Homo sapiens: one gene and its partners. The protein of the gene in region 4 purifies or fractionates together with the protein of the main gene of each other region. This does not show direct contact. Each region holds a gene or a part of one and is shown on either strand. Other genes may lie near its edges.

Region 1 (4,268 bases), on a different chromosome or scaffold from region 4:
GGAGGGGGCTGGGCGCTGTCCCTTCTCTTTCCCAGGAGCCCTGCCAGGGGCTGTGGGCCTACAAGGCTTCCAGGGGATGCCATCCAGCCTGTAGGAAACCAAAGATGGGAAGTGGCTCCTAGGGGGCTGACTCTTCCTTCCTCCTCCTCCCCAGTACCACATATACTTTCTCTCCTTCTATCTCCAGGGCCCCACCAATCTGTTTACATATTTATTATCCTATGGGGGCCTGAGCAGGATTGAGGGAGCCAGGGGAGGGGCAGGAGTCCCAGCACCATCGGTTCATAGTGTGCTTGTGTGTTTGTTTTAGATCCTCCTGGGGGATGGGGATGGGGCCAGGCTCAGTGTACTAGGCCTCTCTGTGCTGAGCCCCAGGCTCCCGGCCCCTTACCCACTCTCTCCCTGTGGCTGGTCTGGTTCTCATGTAAACCCACTCCTTGCTTTGTCTCCCTGGATATGGATTTCAGTTAAGTATTTTGTAACCCGTTACACTGTGTGTCCTTGTGTAAATAAACTTGTTTCTGGCAGTGCCTTCTGGGGCCAATGTCTCTATTCTCTGGGCTCCCAAATGGAGTAGAGGTTCTCATCCTCCTTCCTAGCCAAACACACTACTCTTTTCTCCAGCCCCTGGACTAGAAGCCGATTTAGGAAACTGGAGGTTGGGGCGCAAGATCTGTCCTGTAAGTGAAAAGACAGGGTTATACCGAATATAGTCACAGCATCTCATGGGACCTCTCATGTGGCCTAGGCAGTGATGAGGCAGGGGACCCAGGGCTGAGAGGTCTCACCTGAGTTTACAGCCCTCTCCTTTCCTGCCTCTCTGCCCCTGGAAACAGGGCTGGAGATGGCACAGAGACTACTGGAGCAGCCTGGCAAAGGTTCCACTTGTGCACACACAGGCAAGGCCCATGGAGATGTGCGCATAGGCAAGAAAGGAATCTCAAAGTATTCAAGGGCTTTATTGGGGCCGCCCTGGCTGCCCCTCACAGTGTTGCAAGAACCCGCTGGTCTTGCTGTTGCCTTTGCTCTTTGGGGGCTTGAGAGGAAAGGCAGAGGGAGGACCAACTTATCTGGGAGAGAGAAGGCCCATCTTTGGGGCTAAGACCAGGTGGTGCGGAAGCAGATTTAGGGAGGGGAGGGCCTACTTAGGGGCTGGAAGGGGATGGGGCTGCCTCCTGGAGTGTGGTGGTCACAGAGTGTTGGCTTTGTGGGAGGGAAAGGAAAGGGAGGCACACAAGAAGTCAGGAAGAGTGGATGGGCGGTGCTTCCTGGGCACTGAACATGTGCACTGCCCAGGGCACGAGGGCCAGGACTAGGCATGGCCAGAGGGTGTACTTGAGGAAATTGAAAATGTAGAAGAGGCTGATCTGAGGGGGGTGGCCCAGCCAGTCCAGGGGGCCCAGCAGCCCCATGGCCAGCACAAGGCAGGCTATCTTCTGGCCATTTCCCAGCTGTGCCCGACGCACCTGGGCATAGCAGGGAGAGTGCAAGGCAATGCCCAGGCCCAGGGCAGCCCCTGAGTCACGGCTCAGGGAGGCAAAGGGCCGGCTATCCACGTGTATCCACTCAGGCCGCTCACACCACTTGAAGGCTAGGCTGATGGACCTGTGGGGAAGAAGAGTTCTTGCCAGGAGAGGCTGGAACATAGAAGGCCACTGGCTCTTGGCCATCTGCCCTTGGGGCCCACTCCCATGTTCTGTTTTGTGCCTGTGAGGGTCTATGTGAATAGGTAATGTGTCCTTTTTTAGCTATAATGAACCAGAGACACACCAGGCTAGGTGCAGGCGAGATAGGACAGGGCCCAGCCTGCCCAGGCTTCAAAGCGAGACTTACCAAGAAAGATCCAGGCCCAGTGTAAAGAGGGTCCAATAGATGAGGCTGGTGCCTAGCATGAGGGCCAGTGCAGTCAACCCATAGAAGCTTAGCTCCCGCTCCATAGGCACTCGGGGAGTCATCAGCCAGCCCAGGACAGCGCCTAGGAGAGTGGAGTGACAACAGCTTCAAGGAGTCTGGGGATATGACCCTCCCCACCCCGACCCCCAGCTGCAGTGCAGCTTGGCAAGAGAATAAACTGAGACATAACGGGGGGCCTCTGGGGTGGGCTCTACAGAAGCTGGGAGCGATGGGAAGATCCTAGACTGATCCTCCCACTGCCAAAGGCATCCTCTCAGTCCACCCCGTTGCCCCAGTTGCTCACCAGTTATTAGGCCAGCCAGCACCTGGTGAGGGAAATGTGCTAAGATGAAGATTCGCGACAAGCCAACCGCCAAAAGGAAGGTGCAATAAGCCAGGCTAGGCATCACCCTTACCCAGCGGCTAGAAAGAAGAGAGGCAAGGAGCTCAGAGCGTGTCCATACACAGCTTGGCCTCCTGCAGCACCCAGGTACTCCATGGTTGAACCACACAACCTAGGGTCCCCAAAACTCCAGCTCCCAGGCTGCCATGCTGCTGTGTCTATTAGGTACAGGGTGCCATCACCCCTGCTCCCAATGGTGGGCAATGCCAAGGGTATACCTGCGGGCCCGAGTGGCCACCTGCGAAGACAGGGCCGTCATTATGGGCCAGAGGGCTGCTCCTGTGATCATGCAGTGTCCAGAAGGGCTGCCTGCCAGCAAATCCAGAAGCTCGTGGTGAGAAGATGGAGGCAGAACCCCGGGGCCCCTGGTGATGCCTCAATAATACAGCTGCCTTTCCTGGCTGAGAAGAGCTTTTCCCCAGCACTGATTCATAACTCGCTCTGCTCTGAGGCCTTTTTACTGCCACTTGAGGTCACTGTGCTCAGGTTTCTGTCCTGATCTGTGTCTCTTGGCTGTCCTCTATACAAGGTGGGCAGCTGGTACATAGCATGAGTGCCCTCCTCCCATAACTCAGCTTGGTCTCCCTGGGGTTCTTTTGTTCTCTGCGCCAGTAATTGAGAGGCTGGTCCTTTGGTTGGGCCACCCAGGCTGAAAAGTACTCTGAAATGTTCACCCGAACCCTAACCACATTGGGAAAGGGAGAATGTTTGAGGCTTCCCACCTGGACCAGTCTCACAAGAAGAGGGGAACTGGTGAACCTGGGCTGGAGCCTGGCTGTAGTAACCAGACTCATGGACCCACCAAAAGGGCCTGTCTCCAAAAAGAAACCTGGAAGAGAACAGATGCAAGATGACTTTCCACATGCACACACAGCCAGGGGGGGTACAAGGCGGGCAGGACACAGAGTACTCTGGAGGGCCTGAGGGGTGAAGTCAAAAAGGGACTACGATTCTGTCCACTGCTCTCAAGGTATCCATGGATACCTTGCCATGGTTTTCTACCTTAGAACAGGAGAAAGAAAGCACACTATTTCTTTTCTTTTTTTTTTCCTAACCCTCAGCCTGTGGAAACACTATTTTTAAAAACTAGTCTGGGGCCAGGTACAGTGGCTCATGACTGTAATCCCAGTACTTTGGGAGGCCTTAGCTGGAGGATCACTTGAAGCCAGGAGTTCATGACCAGCCTGGGCAACATAGCAAGACCCAGATTCAACAAAAACAAAAAATTAGCTGGAAGTGGTGGTGCACACCTATAGTCTCAGCTACTTGGGAGGCTGGGCGGGCAGATCACTTGAGCCCAGGAGTTCGAGAATAGCCTGGGCAACATGACAAAACCCCATCTCTACAAAAAATACAAAAATTAGCCAGGCATCTTGGGGTGTGCCTGTAGTCCCTGCTACTCCAGAGGCTGAAGTGGGAAGGATCACTTGAGCCCAGGAGGTTGAGGCTGCAGTGAGCTGTGATTGTGCCATTGTACTCCAGCCTGGTGATGGAGTGAGATCCTGTCTCAAAAAAAGAAAAAGTGAATAAAATAAAAAATAAAACTGATACAGAGGCAAGAGATTGTGGTAAGCCGTGTGTGTGCTCTGAGATACTCAGCCGTCCCACTCTACCCCCTCTCACTGCAAGGCCAGCTCTTATCATCCACAGAGAGTCCAGGACCCAGCTCTCTCCTCCAGGCCCTCACTAACCCTCCTGCTACCCCTGCCTCCATGTCCCCAGTTACAGCCTGAATTATCCACACCTAAATTATTTAGGTGAGCCTCTCAGGTCTGAAAATGGGGGTGGGAAATGGACAGAGAAGGCTGAGAAAGAATAAGGAGGACAAAAAAATGTCAAAATCCTCTGGTCTAGCAAGTGCTTGGCTGGGCCCTGGGAACCACACAATGAAGAGGCTGCTGTGGCCAGAAAGAGAAAAGATGGGATAGCAAAAGAGATGCTGGCAGGAAGCCACGTGCTGGGGAGGGATATA
Region 2 (3,562 bases), on a different chromosome or scaffold from region 4:
AAGGAGTGTAACAGGCCTAGTTTAGTTGATATTCAGAACATATTTCAGTGTCAGTTACCAAAGTGAATATTGCTAGGTAAGCTGAGGCTGCCATTGGCAAATTTGGGAATTCAGGGACTGGATCATTTGGCAAATTAGCTTCTTCTTTTGATGGGGCAGCAGGCACTGTATGCTTTTAAATTGCAAGGTGATCAGTTGTTTGGGGTATAAATAATGAGGCAATGGGAACACAGACTTTAGTCAGAAGCGCCTGGGTTTGAGGTCCAGCTCTGAGGCTTACTGGACACGTAACCTGGGAAATGGGCCTTGTTTCTCTGAGCCTCAAGTTTTCACCCCAAATGGGAAAAAACACCCTCGTCCTGTGGGACTGCTGTTGGCGCTCAGCAGTCGTGCGTGCCCCACAGTGTGCAGAAGCAGACACACTGGACGTGTTCAGTAGCTGGCAGCTTTTGTTATTTGAGACAGGTTTTAAGAAGCTTAGGCAGATAAATGCATGAAAGGACTACACTGGAGCTTGCGTTACTGGGAGGGTTTGAAAAGTGGGTGACATTCCTGAAATTCTATCCTTGACACGTTCTTTTTTAGATGATTAGCATTTATGATGCAGAGACAGAACAACTTCGTATAGGACCGTACTCCTGGACACCATTTCCACATGTGGATTTCTGGTTGCACCAAGATGACAAGCAAATACTAGAGGTGAGAGTTTACAGGCTGGGTAAGTCTTAAATCTCTGCACCCTGGTTTCCCCATCTGTAAGAAAAAAAGGGTTTAGACCAGGTCATAGCTGCTTTCCCTTTGGCGGGTAGTAACTTTTTGGATGCCATTGACAGACCCCATTTAACTTGTATATCAAATGGGGATATGTCAAGTCCTAGATGGAAATGTGTGTGGGTAAAGCAGTAAGCAATCAACTTTTTTCTTACTAATTCAGGCCACCTCATTTCTTAACGTATTTTATTATATATATTTGTGTCCAAGAACAAAGATACTTTGACATCTTTATCACAGCAGGGGACAGTAAGGTTGGCTTCTCTAATGCCCACCATCTTGTGTTTTCAGAATCTTTCCACTTCGCCTCTGGCTGAGCCACCCCACTTTGTTGAACATATTAGATCTACCTTGATGTTTTTAAAAAAACACCCATCTCCAGCTCACACACTGTTTTCTGGAAATAAAGCCCTACTCTACAAAAAAAATGAAGATGGCTTGTGGGAAAAGATCTCTTCTCCAGGAAGTTAAAAAACATGAATTACCAAAGAAAGCACCTTCTTGGCCTGACAGACCATTGGTGGGGCTGGCACGAATCCAGATCTGGATCCTACATCTGTTGGGTCTTAGGCCTCCTTCCCTCCTCAGTGTCTTTCAAATGACTTTCATCAAATGACTTTCAAAATAAAACCTTATTTTGGCAAAGGCATTTGTTGAGACTTATTTTTTGGTTTACTAAAAAATTGATGTCCAGTTTTTTTTTTGGTCGGTAATAACGGGCAGAGGAGAACCTACCTCTCACTGGTCTATCGGCAGCTATTTCAGGTACGTGGGTAAGTCTTTTGTAATAAGATTTATAAACTGAATTCACTGGTAACAATTTCAAGAACCTTTATTGAAACCAACATTCAAATAATATCTCAAGGGTGAAATGTTTCAGCAAAACCAATTTAACAATTCCAAATATATATAAAAACATGTAATTTTCTTGAAGGTGATAATTTACCCCTCCCCCATTTTATCTGCTATACTTCATTGCACCAAATAGGGAAGACTGTTTAATCATCTGCACCAAAAAAAACCCCCTGCATTTTGACAAGTGTAAATGTCAAAAATCCCATCAAATCAGAGTATAATTATAGGCTTAATATACTATAACTAAGGCTTCCAATACTACAGTCCAGAAACCCAGTGTGAATTTTCCCATTTTCAGGTCTCCCAAAAGCTTGACTGCTGGATTAAGAAGGCACAGGGGCCATTACTTACGACAAAGTGACGCAGTACTTCGGAAAAGTAGGAACGGGCAGTGCCAGCGAGCTTCTACTGACTTAAGCAGGGTGCCCGGCTGGATCAGCGTGAGAGAGTGCTCTGCTGGCTCCTGTTTCTGAGTTGGGCCCAGGCGAGCTGCCAGGGCAGTAGAAGCTTCAGTGGGAGACAGGTCAAAGGGGTACTTGTTTTCAGATTTTAACCAGGTGGGTGCTACGTAGCACACGGAAGAGCAAGCTCTTAAGGGTAGCATCTATCAGGTTTTCAGATACTAAACAGAAATGAGCACAGTCTGTACTTGTGTGCCAATTTTAAAAGCTTTGCCAGTATTTAAAAATATATGGTCAGGAGGAGACTTTACAGTTTCTCTTTACAAACGGTATATAATGGGAGAAATGGCCTTGTGGCAGAGGACAGTCCCAGACAGCAGCCTTGCCACAGCTCAAGTAGACACAGTCCTTACTAAGTCTCCACGAAGAGCAGTAGCTGGGGAGGGCTTCTGATGCTCTTATTTACAATCCCACAATCACTGCTCTCCTTCAAGTCTAGCAGTCCCACTGTATATTGCAACTTGATCGTACTAAAGACCGACAGCAAAGGATACAGCCAGTCTCGCCTCTGTGAAGTGTTGCAGAGAACCTGGAGAGTGCTAATGAAAAGCTGTTTTACCAAAAAGTTGCCACGGGCAACCTCATATACTTAGGCTTATGTTTAGAAAGAGCAAGGGTGCTACTGGTAGACACTTGAAATTCGAAGTGTTTTTTGTGAATAAAATGTGTTTATGGTAACTTAGGGAAAAGTCGTAGTAGGACAGCAAACGTGGTTCTACATGTACATGAAGTTAGACAAGCTGACTCCCCTCCTAGAAAGCCTACCTTTCAGGCACATATTTGTGCCAAAATCCCAGTGAAGCACAAACAACAGTAATTTATATTAGTATGTGGCACAGTTCACATTTCCAATAGAACTTCATCTTCCCTGAAACAATACTCAGTACAGTCTCAAACCACACAATGAGTCTCATCTTAAGCTCTCCGGTCCTTCTACCTGTGAGTGGTCATCTTCTGGGTGTGGGACCCCTTTCTGGAAGGCCTCGGTCTGGTCGGTGTGCTGAGGGCTGGGAGCCCCTGGGTGTCCCTCAGTGCTGCTGGCCTCGAGGGTGATCTGCTCCGGCCCACTGGATAGGCGCTCCACCTTTTCTAAGTCTTCAATGTGACTGACTGAGCTGGTCTCACTCAAAGCATCTGAACCTCGCAGGGACCTTTTAAAAGGCTTCTGGCCTACAGAAAGGGCAGACAGACTGCGCTGAAACTCAGTGAGGATACTTCTGCAACACAGGCTGTCTCTGCAACAGATAATTGCTTTATTTCACAACACAGCTTCAGCAGAAACCTTTACTGGCTCTGAGGTGTTTTAGGAGATGAGAAAACCGAGAGCTGCTAGCTTGACACCAACATGCTCCCCAGGCCGGGGAACTCTAAGGTCATCTTCATTAGGAAACGCCCAGGAGGGTAAACACCACAGTGACAATGTCATCTTTCAAGACCCCAACTTCCCCTTAGCGCACTACCGTGGGATTTCTTCA
Region 3 (4,658 bases), on a different chromosome or scaffold from region 4:
AAGCATTTTTCAAACTGTACTTGGCAACTGACTGGTATATGAAATCAACTGGGGGAGTGTCAAAACAATATTTATTATGTGAAACAATAAAATATTAGAATGTATTACATTCTAATGGTATTATTTCATAAAACATTTAAAAATAATATATTTGTTACTTATATGTAATGTATCCATTGGATCTCCATGTTAATATTACTACAATGTAAAATATATATCTGAAATACACTGTTCTGTGGCACATACAGTCAATGCTACTTTAATGGTATTTCTGTATACATACTTTTCAGTGCTAAGCATGAACAGATTAATTTATAATGATTTATACTGTTTTGAACTCTAACAGCTAACAAATACAGGAAGCATTACTTTACAGAGAAAGTGGGTTATAACAGGACGGGCGCAGTGGCTCACACCTGTAATCCCACCACTTTGGGAGGCTGAGGCGGGCGGATCATGAGGTCAGGAGATCGAGACCATCCTGGCTAACACGATGAAACCCCGTCTCTACTAAAAATACAAAAAATTAGCTGGGCACGGTGGCGGGCTCCTGTAGTCCCAGCTACTCGGGAGGCTGAGGCAGGAGAATGGCGTGAACCCAGGAGGCGGAGTTTGCAGTGAGCCGAGATCATGCCACTGCACTCCAGTTTGGGCAACAGAGCGAGACTCCGTCTCAAACAAACAAAAAAAAAAAGTGGGTTATAACAGAGTTTGCAAGTGGGGTCCACTGACTCCTGAGGGCCCCATTACCCTTTCAGGGGCTTGACAAGTTCAAAATTATTTTCCTAGTGATTACTAAGATATAATTTCCTTTTTTCACTGTCTTGACATTTTCACTAATGGTACAAAAGCAATGGTAGGTAAAACTCCCAGCTCATTAGCACAAATTGAGGCAGCACCATCAAACTGTATTTTCGTACTTACAGTAATTTTTCACCTCATTTACCCATAGAGAGAAAAAAGCAACCTTCATATAGTAATATCCTTGACAATGAAGTAACAAAATGTTAATTTTATGAATCCTTGACCTTTGAGTACACATCCTCTTTCTAATTAATATCCTGTGTGTTACATAAGGAAGTAAGATTGCTGTCATGAGGAAAGCACTTGTATGATAGAACTGCAAGCTAAACTAGCCACTTTTTTCACGGAACATCATTTTTACTTAGAAAAACTCATTGACGGACTATACCTATTCACTTTCAGGACAGACATATTTTAAAAAATAAACAAAGTGAGATTGTTGATTAAAACAAAAATAAATAACAGTATTTACTGTCAATGATAAGTTTGAATTTTCAACTAAAACTCAGAATTTTGGAAAATCTATATGCATCGTCAAGAGCTGACAATACTTATAGACTTTTCTAGTGAGATCAGTAGTATTTTTAATGAAGATGATTTTTTGATATTTTATAATCAAATGTTTTAACAACAGGAAGATCTATGTAACTCAATTGGTCAATATTTTTCAAATAACTTATGCACAATTACATGGAATCAGGCATAAGTAAAAATATCTATTCAAGATGCAGTATAGTTAAATGGATTTTTTAATGTAACAAAGTATAAAAAGTTCACTAAAATGATTTCTGATTTCACATTGCAAATAACCTTTAAGAAACTGCGACACAGTGAGTTTTGGTGCAATTGCAAAGAATACCCACAATTATCTCAAAAGAATATAATATACTCCTCTCCTGCTTTCAACTATACATGTGTACAAGACTAAACTTCCTTGCTTCTTTCAAAAACCACGTGATGCAACAGATTGACTGCAGAAGCATACGAGAGAAACTGGCTCTCTCCTATTATGTCAGATATTAAAGATATTTGCAAAAATGCAAAATAGTTACTTTCATAAAAACATATTATCTTACTAACAGGTGTTATTATTTTAATGAATTATATAGATGCATTGAAATTTTCCCAATTTTAATTTCTGAAATGGTAACTATCAATAGATATGACCAACATAAACCAAAGTTATTTAGGATCCTCAATATTTTTTTAAGACTTTAAAGAGGTTTTGAGACCAAAAAGTTTGGAACATTTCACATGAAGTAACAATTACCTGGTTTCATGTCATTTATGTGAGTTCTGCCCTTCATATTAGGGTCAGAAGTATTGCTTCAAAAGATCACAGAAATTACATTTACCTGACATTGGCGGCGTAGAACAATGCAAGGATGTGCCAATACATTTTCTGTAAAGAGACTATATAAAAATAATTTATGTATATGTATGTCTACATAGAGATAAATTAAATTTACAACAGGTATCTTTCTGAAATTATTCTTGCCTGAAGAATCATGCATTATTTTATGTTTTCCATTCTTAAACAAATTAAATAGATCTTTAAAAATGTCTAGAAATGTTTGCAAATGATTCTACCCATAACGAAATTCAATATGAAAAGAATGAAAACCAGATCTGCATACTAGTAAATAAGGGAAACAATACATAATACATAATATTAATGTCTATAGTATAAGATGAAACTAGATCTCTGAATGTTTAATGTGGGAAATGGCACATCAATTAAATGGCATTTAATGCTGCAAATTATTTCTTTCAGAAAATGTCCTAATAACAGAATTCCTATCAGCAGAGTCATTTGATCTTCATGAACCCCATTCTAAAAATGTTTGGTTTTGGTGCACTTAAATTATAAGGTTTAAGTATAAATTTAAGTATAAATCTTAAATTATAAGATTCTTAATGACCATGTTAATTGACTAATATTTATGTATCAAATATTTATTTTGAGAATGTGCCCCACAAAACAATTACAGCTGTGGGTTTCAGGTCTCAGAGTGACATATACATACATGTGCACACATATTTATATGTAATAATAGTCTATCAAATGAATCAAAGCTTTAAGTATAAATATTGAAGCAAAAAACAACTCCAGCAGAATGGAAAACACAGATTTTATTTATATTGACATTAACACCCTCGGGTTTAATTATGCAAATAAGGTGTTTTTCTTCGTTAAAATGTTTAAAATAATGATCATTATGGCATGAAATGTAAGCTTTGTGCAATTCCAATATTTTTGAAAATGGTATTCACTAAGGATCACAATAATCAAGACTAAAGGATTTTCTTAAAATGATCGTTAGATATAAAAAAAAGTAATGCTATCACCAAACGCTGATTATGAACAAAATCTAGATGCTATGTTGCTAAATATCTTGTAAGCATTAGAGTGTTTAGAAAGAAGCCTCCATGCACAATTACTTTTTTGATGGGAGACAGACAGATTACATTTCATTTTATTCTTTGGATAGACCCATGAAAAGAATGAAAACCAGATCTGCAAACAGGTAAGTAAGGGAAACAATATATAATACACAATATTAATATCTACGGTATAAAATGAAACTAGATCACTGTATGTTTGATGTGGGAAATGACACGTCAGTTACATGGCATCATTAAATGCCATGTAATTTTTCTTTCAGAAAATGTCCTATGAAAAAAGTTCTTATCAGCAGAGCCATTTGATCTTCATGAACCCCATTCTAAATTATTATTTTGATGGGAGAGAGATAAGATTACACTTCATTTTATTTTTTGGATAGACCCATGAAAACAGTTACAATACTCATTACAAAATTACTTTGTGTTTATAAAATTGGATGACTAGTCTATCCTTACTGGAAAAACTATCAAATTATATATTTTAAATAATGGTCATTTTTTTTCTGCAAAATATTATTCAAAATTTAAGCTGCTGCTTCAAAGAAACAACCTAAAGGAAGCAATAATAATCATTTAATATTGTAAATTAAAGAAAAACTCTAAATTCAATAAATAAAAGCTGTAAACGTCTTTAGATAAAACATTACCTTGCAAGTCCAATACCAAATCCAGCAAATCTATTCAGCTGTTCTAAAGTAAAAAAAAATAGAAATAAAAAAATAAGATTACTGATAACCAATTACTGACAATTTAGGTTTAGTCTCAAAACAATTTTAAAAAATTTATTTTATTAACCTGCTGTTCATTTAAACCTCAAAGTCAAATTCTGATAGGGGCCAGGTAAATAATTTAAATGAATGAAGGACTCTGCTGGGGTCTGTGGCAAATTGCAAGGTGTAGAGTGTTTAAAGCACAATTACGCTTTCACTCCAATTCATTGTTGCCACATTAGAGTGTGGGCCCAGGGTTTTGAAGTTGTAATTTTTTCAAAAAAAGATATTCTCATTTTATATAAAAGCTTCCAATTTTAAAGTCCTGGACAACTATTTCAAAAACTGTTAACACATTGTCTTGGCCTAATGAAACAAATATCCGGACAGAACCTAAGGGCTACCAGTTTTCAGCTTCTGATTCCAATCAAATAAAAAATTTTCCATGGTTGGCCGCAGCTGATATTCCACCTGCGACTTTACCTCTTATGCTGTAAAACTAGTTATTCACTGTTACTGACGGAGAGCACTTTATTAAACCAATAACTACAAGTAAAGCACCTCTAAATTATTAACTTGAAAGGGTACTTAGGGATAACCAAAATGGGTAAATACAGCTCTCCCCCATCTCTTCAAGTTTTAAATAGTTTGAGGCTAGCTGTTTAATTAATTGGAGTAGGTTACTGGATACCTAAATGCTACTACAGATGGTATGTCTGTTATGTTACTGGAAAAGTT
Region 4 (5,284 bases):
TGCCGCACAAAGGGGTCTGGATCCAGCCTGTAACAGACACCACCCAGTCATTGTGCAAAGCCTGAGAGACACAGCCTTCCTGCCCTCTTGGCAACAGGAGTCAGTGGACAGGAAAGGAGAGACACCACTGCTAGGGCCAAGGGGGACACTGAAAGCAAGAAGCTGGGTGCACTCGAGAGACAGCACAGCCAGTTAGAGGGAGGCTCCATTCTTCCACCCCAGGCTCATTCCAGGTACTCATCCCAGGTAATGTCCTGACTCTCTATAAACACTAGCCGGGCACCTGTAATCACCCTCCATCTCTGCAGGACCAGTTTCCCACTGTCTGCTGTTACACCTCAGGCTTCCCAGTTTACCTTCTGCTTACTATAGCCAAGACCAGCCTCTAGGATGGGCTCAGCGCCCAGGCACTGCAGACCCCAGCCAGGAGTAGGGGTATACTTACTCAAACCCAGAGATGCGGCCGTGCTGGGAAGCCACGGCCCACACACGCCCCAAGCCGCCCACCTTGGCTGACCCCACAATGATAACTGCCAGCTGCCCGAGGAACATGACCAGTGTCTGGAACACATCTGTCCAGATGACGGCCTTCAGCCCACCCTGCAAGGAAAGCACAGCAAACCTGCCACAGAGGCCTTCTAAACCCAGCTTGTCCAACCTGCCTTATTTTGTTGTTGCTCCATTTTGTTTTGTTTTGTTTTGTTTTAGGCTTTTTGCAGCCTGAAGCCAGTTTTTAGTTTCTGTCTCTGGTGATATGTATAAAAGAGGGATGACGAAGGGGCTTTACTGACCCAACCAGAAACAGAAACTAAGAACCCATGACTATATTCTCTCCCTTGGACACTCCTGAAACCATCCACCCTAAGAACATACTACCAGTGAGGGGACTCTCCTGCCATTAGGCATGTAATTGCTGTGACCCTGTTGACATCATTCCCATCCCATCCTCTACCTTCATATACCATCCCCACTGCTAAATCCTATCATAAATCTTACCACCCCAGAATTTCACCTATTCTCCTCATCTATATTCTCAGCTTATCTCTTCTTTTCCTTCTCTTCCCATGTCCCCTCCTTACTTCATCCCTTCCCCTCCCCACACCACGGCTTACTGCACTTACCAGAGCTGTATAGACGGTACAGACAATGCCCAGGGCCAGCACGGACAGCCACAGATCAAAGCCAGTCACTGTAAGCATAGAAGCCACATTCTTATCCCTGGAAAAGGGTTCCCCAGGGGAGAAGCCCTGGTAGGGCAATCACGTCATGCCACAGAGATAAAGCATTGGTCATTAACAATGAAATAAATCATTCACCACAACGGAGAAAAATGTTTGCAGAGCTCCACCAAAAGATATTGACTAACCAGTTCAGATAGGGCATGGTAACATGTTACTAGCTGTCAATTGAGGTGGACCAAGCCTTCCTCTGGTAGAGACCCACCCAAGGGCCCAAGCGGTGAATTAATTCCCCATTCAAGGTCAGGTTCTTTTCCACATACGCTCCTCCATCTGCCTCTCCCAAAGGTGCTTTCCTAACCTACCACGGCTGAAAGCCAGGGGCTGTGTGACTCCTCACCTGCATTGAGAGCCAATGACGGAGCATAGAGCACAACTCCCATGTAGATCACCTGTTGCATGTGGAAAAAATGTGATGGGGGCCGGAGAATGGTGGGAAGAGAGAGGAAGAAAGATGGGCCTCAGCGCCAATATGCCCATGGCTTCCCCTCACCTAGGCTCACTTCCCTCTTCCTTCTCCTCTCAAATTCTGGCTTGCTGCCACCACAGTATCTGTGCTGGAATTGGAAGGCATGGGCAGCAGGATGCCTCTGGGGTCCTCACAGATGCTAACCTCTAGCAGGAATTTCAATCCTGCCAATCTGAGAGCAGGGGAGACTCCAATTCCCTCAGCATGCTTGCGTTCAGGTCCCCCAACATGCCCTAGGCTCGGTTTCTATCCTCATTCTGCTTACCATCTGAAAGATGAAGGTCACAGTTCCACACACTCGCACAGTTTTATTGAATCGAAGCTCCAGGTACTGGGTATACAGAAAAAAAGATTTTTCTCCTGACTTCACCCCGACAACTCACAGACAAATTCCCTCAAGATGCTCAGGAACATGAGGGAATATCCAACCCATACCCACTCTGAGTCCTACTCGGCATAGCACCCTCCTCTCCAATCCTGCCCCTATACCTAACATCACTGAGAAAGAATTATAAACACACAATGAGTTTTCTGTCCCTCTCATTAGGTGGAGGAGGTCTAGGGTCCCAGGTCCTTCCTATGTGCCTGTCCCTCCTCTCCACCCCAACCCGTGTCCCACGCACTTCTCCCTTCTGTCCCTGCTCACCTCATAGGCACTGGTGAGATGCAGGCGGTAGAAAACGGGGATGAAGATGTGTGCAGGTATCAGCAGCCCCAGAAAGTAGCAGCAGCCCAGGAACCAATATTGGGTCCCAAATCGGTAGATCTCTGACGGCACACCCAGGATGGCCACGGCTGACTGGAAGGTGGCCAGCAGGGACAGTGCCACCGGAAGGCAGCCCATTTTGCGGTCCGCCATCAGCAGCTCACCAACAGTATGCCGGCCCCAGCCACGACAAGCATGGTAGAGCCCAATGGCAAGAGAGAGAACCAGCAGCAGGACGAACACCACATAGTCCATGATGGAGAAGGTAGACATGCCCACGCTTGTGCCCGAGGTTGGGGAAAGAGGGGCTGAGGTGCTCACCCCTACACTCATATCCTCACTGTGTCTGTGATCTGCAGCCAGTTGCTGCTCCAGGGCTCTGGGGTAGGGCAGGGGCGGATGTGTGGCTACAATCTGGCTTCCAGCCACAGTCTCACAGTCTTCCTCCACGGAGTGATACTGTCCAGGGTGAGCTGCAAAGGAATTAGCTCTTAGTGAGGCCTATCTGGCCTTGGTAGCCATTCACCCTTGGGCCTTGTACATCGCATGCCATCAGAAGTGGACCAGCCAGCATAGTGGTAGCCCTTCAAGGTCTAGAGGCCCTGGTATGGGTTTGGTAGGGGACATAAGTGAGGGAGAAGCATCAGAGTGCGACAGCCAGGAGACAATATAACTTGGCCAGGACCTTTGAGTATGCACAGCTGTGAAATTCAACAACCTTCTTAGGTCTCCACCCGAGTACCAAAAGAAAAATAAACTCTAGCCTAAGTTTCTTAGCAGAATTTCCCAGCCCCACTTGAAGGCACAGACCCAGTCACTACAATACACTAAGCCAGCAGAGCCCAGCCTGGCGCCACAGCCCAGCAGGAAACACAGCATGGAGACTAATGGCAGCAGGGCTTCCCCTACTGCCCCTGGCCTCGGCCCTCGCCTCCTGTGATCCCCAGTGTCACCCTTCTAACTGATCATCAGTGAGACTGCCTCTGTGGCAGCCACAGACTCCATTTCAGGCGTCCCCAGGCCAACCCCTTTCTTAAGGTTCTCCCCAACACCACTAGATAAGTGCTGCCACCCACCTCTCAGCCCCTCTACCTGCAACATCACAGTCAACAGCAGACGCAGGAAGAGCGGCTGGATTCAAAAGTGAGAGGGGAAAGGTGAGAGGGCACCATGCTGGAGTCAGGGTTTCAGAATGACGATTCTCCATTCTGGAGAGAAGCAACCCAGTCACGGAGCTGAGAGGCAAAGGGACCAGCCAAAGAGAGTGGTCGTATCCTGCTGGGGACAGACACCTACCTGGAGAAGCAATCCCTGTTCTGAGGCAGAGTTGCCTGGAGCTGCAGAGCTGAGGATCTGGCTCTATGAGTAGCTGAGGTGAGAGATCAGGAATTGGGGGTGGGGTGAAGCTCAGCAGTCATTTGTTCTGGCCCCTTCAGGGAACCAATGGCTGTGTTCCAAATGGCCCTATCACCCTATGGCCCCCAAACTCCAACTCAGCCCTAGAGGCTCCAGAACAGGGAAGAGGGAGCTCATATTCAACAGCATTCCTAGATGGATTAGCCTTTCAGCCTAAAGTACTCTTGGCACTCTGTGCGGGAGGGAGTTGGAAAGAAGGAACTGAAAACATGGGAAAGTTGAAAGTTGATTTTCTAACTCCTGCACAAGAAATGTTAATCCCCCAAGAATACACCACAATCCTCAGAGAAAGAGGGAAGGGATCATAATATTTAAAATCTTAAATCTTTGGACACCACTATTACAACCAACCCCCCACCACTGACGATTTCACAGATAAACACGCTAAGGCTCAGATGGTTCAAGTGACCTTTCCAAAAGCACAGAGCCGACTATTGTCAGAGCATAAATTAGAACCCAGGTCTAGGGATTCACCATCCACCCTGTCTGTTCTCCAAGCGTATCATATTGTCTTCAAAGGCAATCCTCTGGGGTACTTATTGGTATGAGGAAAAAACACCAGAGAATGCCATGTAGTTACACAGCCTAACATGACGACAGTTAACATTTGCTGAACACCTGCTATGTAACCCAGCAGTGTGTGAGGTGCTTTATAAACATTAGTAATAATACATAATGAAGCTAACATTTTCAAAACAGCATGTCTCAGATTAAGACACGAATACTCTCCAGTTAACACAAGAAAACTGAGAGATTAAATAACTTGCTCAAGGTTATGCAGCATGATACAAAACAAGAGAGAGAGAAACAGTGCTGTCTGCAGCTATGACAGGTGTTCAGCAAGGGCCCTGTCCTCACTATTCCCAGAACCAGGACAGGAGCAGAGTGTTGCAGTCAGTCATTCACAGGACATAGTTTAGATTTCAACTAATCAAGAGACAGACTAACATAAACTATGTCTTCTGCTTTTGCCCACTAGGAGAAAGATTAGGCTGCCTTTCCGCTCTCCCACAGTGTGTTCTTGGGCAGACACTGGCTGGCTGGCAAGATATGGCCTCATGCAGACTAAACCTGAACTCTGAACCTCTTGGGGCCAATAAAGAGGGAAAATCAGACCTGGCAACTCTTGGATCACATGTTCTACAAGATTCCCAACAGGCTTAAACTCTGGTTTAACCTAAACATGCCCTGGGCCTTTGCACATTGCAACACCCTGAGTTTTCTCATTCGTCTTTGGCAAGTTTTTACTGCTATGATAGAGATGATGGGAACTACTGGGGAGTAAGAGGAAAGAAGAGGTCTCCTGTGTGCAAAGAACACAGAACAAAGAACTAACTATAGGGTTAGTGGTTTAGAGAGGTAGGTGGCCAGAGACAGGAAGGAAAGTCCCAGTATGGGACACGGAGGTACAGAAATAAAGACACTCTGCTGATGGGACTTCCTGATAAAATTCTA

The links. Proteins that work in one complex are often made in the same cells at the same time.
Region 1: the proteins of SLC5A6 (region 4) and G6PC3 purify together in Homo sapiens (affinity purification with mass spectrometry; one large-scale study listed by BioGRID and IntAct). This does not show direct contact.
Region 2: the proteins of SLC5A6 (region 4) and PDXDC1 purify together in Homo sapiens (affinity purification with mass spectrometry; one large-scale study listed by BioGRID and IntAct). This does not show direct contact.
Region 3: the proteins of SLC5A6 (region 4) and SLC25A46 purify together in Homo sapiens (affinity purification with mass spectrometry; one large-scale study listed by BioGRID and IntAct). This does not show direct contact.

What each region holds. Positions count from the first base shown.
Region 1 is NC_000017.11:44,073,017-44,077,284, reverse strand, and holds the end of G6PC3 (glucose-6-phosphatase 3), read right to left. Parts: intron 3,126-4,268; coding exon 3,019-3,125; intron 2,606-3,018; coding exon 2,515-2,605; intron 2,317-2,514; coding exon 2,198-2,316; intron 1,976-2,197; coding exon 1,834-1,975; intron 1,606-1,833; coding exon 1,242-1,605; 3' UTR 941-1,241; downstream 1-940. UniProt on the Homo sapiens protein: Hydrolyzes glucose-6-phosphate to glucose in the endoplasmic reticulum. May form with the glucose-6-phosphate transporter (SLC37A4/G6PT) a ubiquitously expressed complex responsible for glucose production through glycogenolysis and gluconeogenesis.
Region 2 is NC_000016.10:15,035,711-15,039,272, reverse strand, and holds the end of PDXDC1 (pyridoxal-dependent decarboxylase domain-containing protein 1), read right to left. Parts: intron 3,323-3,562; coding exon of another isoform or gene 3,258-3,322; coding exon 2,998-3,257; 3' UTR 1,243-2,997; coding exon of another isoform or gene 1,063-1,242; 3' UTR 941-1,062; downstream 1-940. Other genes in the region: NTAN1 (protein N-terminal asparagine amidohydrolase), read left to right, coding at 586-699, 1,063-1,242.
Region 3 is NC_000005.10:110,741,289-110,745,946, reverse strand, and holds part of SLC25A46 (mitochondrial outer membrane protein SLC25A46), read right to left. Parts: intron 3,901-4,658; coding exon 3,858-3,900; intron 2,218-3,857; coding exon 2,160-2,217; intron 1-2,159. UniProt on the Homo sapiens protein: Transmembrane protein of the mitochondrial outer membrane that controls mitochondrial organization.
Region 4 is NC_000002.12:27,204,905-27,210,188, forward strand, and holds part of SLC5A6 (sodium-dependent multivitamin transporter), read right to left. Parts: intron 2,887-5,284; 5' UTR 2,747-2,886; coding exon 2,354-2,746; intron 2,039-2,353; coding exon 1,973-2,038; intron 1,631-1,972; coding exon 1,579-1,630; intron 1,190-1,578; coding exon 1,122-1,189; intron 601-1,121; coding exon 446-600; intron 28-445; coding exon 1-27. UniProt on the Homo sapiens protein: Sodium-dependent multivitamin transporter that mediates the electrogenic transport of pantothenate, biotin, lipoate and iodide.